2 linked regions of the Homo sapiens genome follow. The protein of the gene in region 1 interacts with the protein of each later gene in a pairwise test. Each region holds a gene or a part of one and is shown in the gene's direction. Other genes may lie near its edges.

Region 1 (7,039 bases):
AAATAGCAAAACAAAGAATTTACAGCTGATAAGCCAACAAAGGCAATAAAAATTAATCATTAAAAAATACGCAATCCAGAAGAAGGAAGTAAAAAAAAAAGAAGAACAAAGGAGAAACAAAACCAAGTGGTAGATTTAAACCTATCTATCTTAGATGTAAATGTGGAAAAACTAAAGTTAAAAGACAGATTGACAGATTGGATTTAAAAAGTACAAGCCTACTATATGCTGTCTACCAGAAATGCACCTTAGATATAAAGACACAAGTAGGTTAAAAGTAATGGGGTGGAACAAGATATACCGTGCTTATACCACAGAAAGTTGAAGTACCTGTATTAGTATCAGATAAAGTAAGTTACAGAACAAAGAATATTTCTAGTGCTAAAGAAGGTTATTTCATAATCATAAAAAAAGTCAGTTCATCAAAAGGATGTGTTTATTGACCTAATAGAGTTTTAAAATACACAAGCAAAAATTGACAAGAACTACAAGGAGAAATCCTCAATTAAAGCAAAAGATGTTAATATACCTCTTTTGATATTTAATAGAATAAGTAGACAAAAAAATTAGTATGACCACAGATTTGAACAATAATATCAACCAATCTGACCTGATTGACATTTTACAAATATTCTACCAAACAGTAGCAGAATACATGTTCTTTTCAAATGCAGATGGAACATTTACAAAGAAGGGTGCATATTCCGAGCCATAAATAAAGTCTCAAGAAACACAAAAGGGGCCGGGCACGGTGGCTCACACCTGTAATCTCAGCACTTTGCTGAGGTGAGCAGATCACTTAAGTCCAGGAGATCCAGACCAGCCTGGGCAGCATGGCAAAACCCCATCTCTACAAAAAGTACAAAAAATTAGCTGGGCATGGTGGCAGGTGCCTCTAGTCCCAGCTACTTGGGATGCTGAGGTGGGAGAATCTCTTGAGCCCAGGAAGCAGAGGTTACGGTGAGTTGAGATCACATCACTACACTCCAGCCTAGGCAACAGAGCAAGACCCTGTCTCAAAAAAAAGAAAAAAGCAACGTAAAAGGATTTCAGTTATACAAAGTATGTTCTCTGGCCTCGATGGAATTAAGTTGGAAATTGATGCCAAGAAGATCTCTGAAAAGTCCCCAAATATGTGGGAAATAATAACATTCATCTAAATAACTCACAAGACAAAGGAGAAATCAAAAGTGAAATTAGAAATTATTTTTAAATGAATGGAAATAAAAACAACATGAGAATTTCTGGGGAAATTCTTAATTAAAGCAGAATGATACTTAGGGGAAATTTATATCACTAATGCCTATATATTAGAAAAGAAGAAAAATCTCAAATCATTGACCTCGGCTTTCCCCTTTAAGAAACTAGGAAAAGAAGGGGGAATTAAACTCTAAGCAGAAGAAAGAAAATGATAAAGGTTGAGCAGAAATCAATAAAATTCTAAGCAAACGTGATAGAGAAATAAACCATAAACTGGATCTTTGGGAAGATTGAAGTTTTTTGAGAAAACAAACCATAAACTGGCTCTTTGAGAAGAAACCTGTAGCAAGATTAATATGGAAAGGAAAAGACATAATACAAATGACCAATCTCAGGAATTAGAGAGGTAACATCGTAACAGAGTCTACAAATACTAAAAATATCACAAGGGAATAATATAAACAACTTTATGCTTATAAATTTAACAACTTAGATCAAATGGACAAATTTATTGAAAGACGCAAACTACCAAAATTTACTCAAGGAGCAATAGAGAACCCAAATATACTCTAGATAGCTATAAAAAAAAATTGAATTTGTAGCTAAAAACCTTCCCACAAAGAGAACTCCAGGTCTGGATGGCTTTTTCACTGTGAATTCTATTAAGCACTTCAGGAAGAAATAATAATCTTAAGCAAACTTTTCTAGAAAATCGAAAAGGAGGAAACACTTACAACTCATTCTATAAGGTCAGCATTATCCTGATACCAAAACCAAACAAAGACATTATAAGAAAAGAAAACTACTCATCAGTATATTCATAAACATAGATAGAAATGTTCTGAACAAAATTTTATAAGTCAAATTCAACAATATATTAAAAAGTTAATACGTCATGAATAATTCTGGTTTATCCCGGCATTCAGGGCTGGTTTAATATTCTGAAGTCAGTCATTGTAACTTATGTTAACAAGCTAAAAATGGAAAAAACATACCATCATATCAGTAGATACAGAAAAAGCTTTTGACAAAATCCATTATCTAGCCCTGATTTTAATTAAAAAAAAAAAAAAAAAAAAAGGCCTTGCAGCAAAGTAGTAATACAAGGGAACTTTCTCAGAAAGCAGATCGGTGGTTTCCTGGGCATAGAATGATAGGGAAGGCAACAAGGGAGGAACTACAATGAAATACAAGGAAGCTTTTAGGGGTGATAGATATATTCATTTTCTTGTTTTATGTTGGTGAAACATGTCAAACTGATGAAATTATATGCTTTACATATATGCAGTTTGTTGTATATCAATTATATTTTTAAAAAGCTGTTTAAAACAAAAATTATGATGACTTGGTGAATGTTTTGATATGGGGTAGATAAAATAAATGGTGCAGTCAGATATGATACCAAGTTTTCTGTATTGGGTGATTAGACTGTGGTATGTGGAATATATAAGAAGTTGGTTTTGTGAGACAGATGATTAATTCAATGTTGGTTATGTTGAGTATAGGTAGTTCAACATGCAGTAAAAGTAAGTATCTATATAAAGACTTATACACAAATGTTCATTGAGCTTTATTTGTGAAAAACAAGGACTAGCTAAAACTCAAATGTCCATCAGGTGAATAGGTAAACTAACTTCTGGAAGAGATTGGGACTAGAGTTACAGATTTACAAATCAGCTTATACATGGTAGAGAAAAACATGACAGAAAGTGAGATTAGTAGGAAGTGTGAATACAATGAGAAAATAAATGGCTTGAAAATGGAGTCTTGGGGAATAACCTTTTAGGGTTATACTGGGGAAGTGGAGCCCACAAAGACAAATGAAAAAGAATGGTCAGAAAAGTATGGGTGGAAGGTAGAGGGGAGACCAGAACTTTGTATCACAGAAGCTGAGTAAGTAGAAAGTATCAGATACAAACAAGTCTAGGAAAAGAATCACTTATGGTATATATGTGACTTGACATTTGGGAAGTTATACTGATGAACTTATCAAGGATAGTATAGTGAAATAGTAAAAAATGAAAACTAGATGCAGTGGTTTGAGAAATGAGATGTGAGATAGTGGCAACAGAAATTGGATTAGAAGAGAAGCAGAGAGATAAGATGGTAGTGGTATAGAGAGGATGTCTTTAAGATTAGGAGGTTGAAGAGCATCTAAAAGCATTTAAACTACTGTATTACATTATAGCACAAACTCTTGGTGGGATATGGAGTAAAGATGTGATAAGATTGGGATAGGGATATCTGTAGAAGGCTTTCTGAGATGAGCATATTTTTTAATCTGAGTTTTGAATAGTGTGATGACATTGACTGATGGGACAGGGTGAGCATCCTAGGCATAGGGAATAGCATGTAAGAGACACAGTGGCACAGAAGTAGATGTCACAAAGATTCTCACATATTTTGATTGGATAACTTTATAAAGTCTTTCAACTCAGAGATTTTTACATTTAAGGTATGTTGCTGATCTCTTTTCTCTTAACAAAATTATTTTAGTAACTACTAAAGTACAATTTTCAAAAAGCTCAAACATGAGTCTTATACAAATATAAAATTTGACTGCTCAAAATTTTATGCAACTCATTAATGAGGGAACAAATAAGATATTTATACAGGGTCAAAGGAGAATTTGAGGAAAATAGATTTATGGAGTTGGTTTGTCGAAGAAATGTAGAAGTAAATTTGCTGATAGATTTTTAAAATTTGCTAATAGGAAAATATGACTTATAAAGCAATGTAGCTTCTAGAATTACCTTTTCTACTGGACAGAAATCATTTGTATTGCTTTGAATAAGAGTCTGTTTACATTGCTCTTAGATAAGAATCTTTAGCATTGTTTTCTACCAGCCAACCTCTATTTTTACAGAATTGTAAAGTATTTTAATAGTGAGTAGAAAATTAAACAGAGGTACATACGCCTAGAAAATCACATAACTCCTTAAGGGGGTAAATAAAAGGATACTCACTAACCCTTTCCTTTTGACTATTTCTAAGTTTTAGATAATTTTTCACAACATCAGTAATACAAGATGGGTTGTTAGTATAATGAAGGAAATACCAAGGAAAGATTTTAAGTTTCTCCTATATTAAGCACATGATAGAATTCCTATGGCATTTTTGTCTTTGTACATCATTTAAAAATTAACTGTGTACCTGTCTTGATTTCACTTTTATCATTGCCTTGAAGCTTTTAAATTATTTATTGTTTAGTATTTTGCACATTTATATTTCATCCTTGATTTGATTGCAGGCTTCTCTAAGGAGAAGGCCTTTGGCTACTTTGTATTCTCTATTGTACCTAGCACACATGGCACCTTGCACACAGTAGGAATTCAATAAATATTAAGTGACTGAATATGATATCTTCTTGGAACCAACATATATTTGAAAAAGTGGTTATATTCTTGGATCAGGACACAGTCCGGCATCAAGTTACTGAATCTTATATTTTAGATTTGTTGTGATACCTGTACATCAATTAGTAATGGTACTTTTTTTTTTATTTTGTTCTATTAGTGGTGATTTACTCAGAATAGGAAGAAAAGCCCTGTATTCAATTTTAGATGAAGTTATTTTCAAGCTTTTTTCAACTCCTAGTCCAGTTATAAGAAGTACTGCTACAAAACTCCTACTGTTGATGGCTGAATCCCATCAGGAAATTTTGATTTTACTGAGACAAAGTACCTGCTACAAAGGTAGTACATTCATTCTTTCTTTTCTTGGGATTCTCAAAAAGAAAATTTTTATTGATGGTTTATGAAAAACAAAATTCTTATATTTTAAAGAGTTGATAACTGACCTATGTAGATAAAACTCACAACAGATACCAATTCAGAAAAAAAAAAGTCTTTATATAATCAAGCTATCTTCATGTCACTACAGATAGCATGTGGAAGATACTTTTCTGATCAGGTTGCCATAAATATTTACTCCCTCTCTGACAAAAAGGTTTTGTGTGTTGAATATACCATATAGTATAGTAAAATAATGACCAAAAAGATCAGTGACCTTATCAAGACCAGCTTTAGTGGAGAAAATGGAGCTGTGCTTGAGAGGCCAGTGGCCCTTATGGTATTTTGAACTATCAATAATTACTTAACACTGCCTTTCCTCAAAAACAAACAAAAAAAATTGCCTTACCTCCAAAATCAAATACATATGTGAATTAAAAGTCAGAAATTTTGAGGATAAAAGGAGTAAGCGTATATACATTCTCATATAATAGCTTTCATTTAATTGAGCATTTACTGTGTGTCAGGCACATTCCATATACTTTATATGCATTAAAATGTTTAATCTTTACAACAATCCTATGGGATAGATATTCTTATCCTTATTTTATAGATATAGAAACAGAGACATGGTAATTTGCCCAAGATCACAAAGGTAGTATATATATTGTTTAATTGCCAAGCAAAGTTATATGTTATCTTTGTTTTATTTCTTTGCTGACCAGAGCCATGTATGTATTATAATCTATTTTTCTTATTCAGCGTGGTCAGGAAATGGGATTCTAGTTCATTAAATATACTTATTAACATAGGGTTATACTGTATGGGAATTTTTAAAGGTTAGAATATAATATGATGCATTTAATACCTAAACAACTAGAAAGGTCTTTATCATTCTTGATGATTTTGAAGACATTGTAATAATGTACCTTGAATTAGTCATTACTGAGGGTATTGTAGGAATAGAGAAGGAAAGTACCAGTAATAGAGCTCTTTAGTTGATATTGTGCCAGATAGACATTTTTCAATTCTGTAATTCAATTCCTAAAGAAATGTGAATGTCCAACAGAGTCGTTATAAAGGAATTTTACCTGAATCCTTCTCCCTTTCTTTGACTTATATCTCAATAGCAGAACTTATTCAGATTCCTGAAGATATTTTACAATTATTAATACTGCTGAGAACTTGGGTGTTGAAGAGAGTATAAGGCATTAAAAGATCCATATAGTGGTTTCCCCAATTATACACTACAAGGCAATTTTACCTTATGTATTTATTTTGAATACACACATTATAATACATCATTTCAGTGTACCCTGGAAACAGTACTTACTTTGTACCTTTCACTACTACTATGTATTATTTTGGCATGAAAATGTACTATCCTAGTGTTGTAGCACTTCACCTATAATGTTTTCCCAGGAACCTATTGATTTGCCCCAAATTATATATGTTACCATATGTTTATATTTAATAATCTTTTTCAACTAATAATGACTAATAATAATCTGCATAAGTGCTTCCACAGGGCAAGCATTTACTGAATATGTGTCTGTAGTAATTTATCTTTAAAATGTCTCCATTTAAGTATTTTTGTTCAAATAAAAAAAATTTATCTCTACTTTTTGATTTACCACAGTGATTCCATCCCACTCCTTTTTTTTTTTTTTTATTAAAGAGATTGTCTAGACAGATTTTTTTTTTTTTATCAGATACCACAATTGAGCACGTAAGAATTCTCAGGAGGGAGGAATATCTTAAAGATTTCAACCTGGAATTCTCTGAGAAAAGGAAAAAGAAAAATCATATGATTAATCTTGTTTTCATTTGTTTTTAAGCCAGACTTTTTAGCTTCAAATTAATACTGATTAGATAACAAAATCATATTTTATTATTATAATAATAGTTGTACCTTTTGCTATTCCATTTCAGGACTCAGACGTCTACTAAGTAAACAGGAAACTGGGACTGAATTCAGTCAAGAACTTAGACAGCTTGTTGGCCTTTTAAGCCCAATGGTCTATCAGGAAGTAGAAGAGCAGGTATTAAGTTACAAAAAAAAAAAATTGCATGATATTTGCTGACTATATTAAACCTTAGTTTTCCTT
Region 2 (3,341 bases), about 75 Mb from region 1:
TGGCTTCCCAAAGTGCTGGGATTAGAGGCATGAGCCACTGTGCCCAGCCTGGGTAACTTCTTTTTTTTTCCCCCACAAGATGGAGTCTTCCTCTGTCACCTAGGCTGGAGTGCAATGGTGTGATCTTGGCTCACTGCAACCTCTGCCTCCCAGGTTTAAGCGATTCTCCTTCCTCGGCCTCCTGAGTAGCTGGGATTATAGGCATGCGCCACCACTACCGGCTAATTTTGTATTTTTAGTAGAGATGGGATTTTTCCTGTTGGTCAGGCTGGTCTCGAACTCCCGACCTCGGGTGATCCACCCGCCTCGACCTCCCAAAGTGCTGGGATTACAGGCATGAGCCATCGTGCCTGGCATTCTTTTTCTTTTTAATTAAAAACAATTTTTTAAAAATAGAGACTGGGTCTCCCTATGTTGCTCAGGCTGGTCTTCAGTTCCTAGACTCAAGGGATCCTCCTGCCTGGGCCTTCCAAAGTGCTGGGATTACAGGCATGAGCCACTGCACCCAGCCTTTTTTTTTTTTTTTTGACAAGGTCTTGCTCTGTCACCCAAGCTGGAGGGAGTGCAGTGACACGATCATAGCTCACTGCAGTCTTGATATCCTGGGCTCAAGCAATCATCTCACCTCAGCTTCCCAAAGTGCTGGGATCATGGGCGTGAGCCCCTGTGCCCAGATAGTTATTTTAAATAAATTCTTATTTTATGCTTTTTAAAAGGCTTTATTGAGACAGAATTTGCATACCATACAATTCACCCATTTAAAATGTGCAACTCGCCAGTCACGGTGGCTCACGCCTGTAATCCCAGCACTTTGGGAGACTGAGGTGGGTGGATCACTTAAGGTGAGGAGTTCAGGACCAGCCTGGCTAACATGGTAAAACCCTGTCTTTACTAAAAACACAAAAACTAGCCGGGGATGGTGGTGCACACGTGTAATCACAGCTACTCAGGAGGCTGAGGCAGGAGAATCGCTTGAACCCGGGAGGCAGAGGTTGTAGTGAGCCGAGATTGCGCCACTGTACTCCGGCCTGGGTGACAGAGCGAGACTCCATCTCAAAAAAAAAAAAAATTCTAAATCATTAAGCAGAGGAGTCCTGTATTTCTACAGGTCAAAATTCTATTCTCTCATTCCCCAATCTCTATAATTCTCTGTGTTGGCCATTTTTAATGTTTAAGATATGCCCATGCACAGACTTTTTATGCAAATGTTATACTCGAACCATTCCATGTTCTTTCAATTCTATGTTTTAGTTATTTAAATATATACTTTTATATAGGAAACATATAGATCAGATTTTTCATGGTCAAAATCTGTTTCCTGTTTTACTGAGTCTCATGGTGGCTTGACAGTGGCGTGTGTATGTGTGTGTGTTTGTGTGTGTATTGAAATCGTGACCTTGTGTTTGATTGAACTTAAGCTCAAGGAGACCTGAACACATAAATAGAAATTATTTTCCCCCTGAAAAGGTTTGCACTTGCTTTCTGCAGTTACCCATGGGGCATTACCAACCCAGGACCATTTTAACCCTCTTCAAGAATTCCAGTTTAATATGGGAGCTTCAATTCAGACTCCTACTTTGTGGGGAACCTAAGATTCCATGTTCCAAGCTAGTTTTAGCGTTTGCTGGCTTACAGCCCACTGTTTCTGTTTCAGCCTACAGTTTTCACCTGCTTTCTAAGAGCCTAGTGATGCATTAAAAAGGTATAATTTGTGAACATCTGATTGATTGCAGTGGCAAAGAGAGGGCCCTTCTGAATACCTGGCCCCTAACTCCTCTGGAGATAGAACCCTCTTCTTTTCTTTCTGAACCTATTCCCTATCAGAAACTCCCAAGAATGCCCTTGAAACCTATATGCCTCCTTTCAAATATGCCTGCCAGACTGTTTTAAAATAGTTTTACACACTTTCTTTAGGATAAAAGAATGAAAGAGTTTGAATGGATGTTATTTCTCAGAGAATTGGGGCTACTCAGAAGGAATCCTTGTCCACAACCCATGATGTTTGCAGGAGGAATGATAGGGTGAATGTGAGTGGCCTGGTCTGAGTCCCTGCTATGTCTGTCCCTCCTAATAAGTTCCTGTTTTCTCTTCCCTCTGTGTCCAGCATAATTACTTGAAAACCATGATGGGCCTCCAGCAGGCACATAGAAAATAGAACCTCATCGCCAGTACCTTAAAGGACAAGACCAGCAACTCCCACCTACTGTAGTGGAGCTGCTCAACCACCTGCCCAGAGCTGCAGCCCCCTCTACTCCAATGCTGGGACCCAGCACAGAGAACACATTTGGCCTGCATGTTGGGAGGAGCATCCTCCAAGGACAACCTTGCTCATCTCCACAGAGCACTTTGGGTTTTAATTCACTGTCTTATATGCAGGGACAGGATAAAATAACTTTCTAGTTTGGACTTTCAGTGCTCATCTGAGAACTTTGTCTTATTTCCTGTCTGAAAGGACATATTCTCTATGTATGTGTGAGGTCAGAACTGAGTCTCAAGTAGGAAGGCAGAAAAGTAGCTCAGCCAGGCTCCTCCTGGCAGGCCTTTGTCACACTGGTCAGCCCCTTTCCTGGATAGACATCCTAGGGTGGGGGTGGTGAGCTCGGTCTGAGGAGCTCTGCTTCTCACAGCTCCCTCAGACCCTAAGTTCTCTCAAGACATCTTTTCTGTGTTTCTGAGCCAGTGAAGAAGACAGGAGGAGGCCCTCCTTCATTTGGCAACCAGGGGAGGATAAGGTCTAGCCACAGAGACCAGAAAGGGATGAGGCAGAGCTGGCTCCATGTACCAGGGAATAAATGAGCAGCTTCTGGGAGACATGTCCTCTGCATGTTTCCAGAACACCACGGCCTTCCCTACGCAGCATGCACGGCCACCAGGCACCAGGGTGCCTCCCCTCCCCGCTTTCTCTCTCCGTGTAGGCTGCACTGAGCAGAAGTGAAAGTGAACGATTTACCCTGAATAGGAACTGGGATCACTGTCAAGGCTGAGCAGGGAAGAGAGAAGATATCACTCTCTATCAAGTTACCAGGCTGCAGCTTGGGCCCTTGGTGGTGGCACCAAAGGGAAAGAGTTCATTACTTTGCTCAGAGAACAAACTCAGGCCCTCTGGGGCCTTCCAGGCTGACTGATACGCCCCTGGGTTGGTAAACCAAGTCTCCACTGAGCGAAAAGTTTCAGTGCTTCCTTGGAATTGTATCTCACCCCCTCTTCTGTTCTTATGGGTCAAGGCCTTGGCCTGACACTCTGTGGGTGCTCCCCCGTCTGACACCCTCATCAGGGCCTTGAGGTTTCTGTTATTCTTCCAACAGTGGGAGAGGAGGTTCTGCTCACCTGGCAGTCCTGTC

Evidence for each region. Proteins that work in one complex are often made in the same cells at the same time.
Region 2: the proteins of IQCB1 (region 1) and KIF9 interact in binary tests that used the Homo sapiens proteins (3 or more experiments, as listed by UniProt).

Annotation. Positions count from the first base shown.
Region 1 is NC_000003.12:121,797,052-121,804,090, reverse strand, and holds part of IQCB1 (IQ calmodulin-binding motif-containing protein 1), read left to right. Parts: intron 1-4,716; coding exon 4,717-4,895; intron 4,896-6,863; coding exon 6,864-6,973; intron 6,974-7,039. UniProt on the Homo sapiens protein: Involved in ciliogenesis. The function in an early step in cilia formation depends on its association with CEP290/NPHP6.
Region 2 is NC_000003.12:47,227,466-47,230,806, reverse strand, and holds the end of KIF9 (kinesin-like protein KIF9), read left to right. Parts: intron 1-2,104; coding exon 2,105-2,155; 3' UTR 2,156-2,809; downstream 2,810-3,341. UniProt on the Homo sapiens protein: Essential for normal male fertility and for progressive motility of spermatozoa.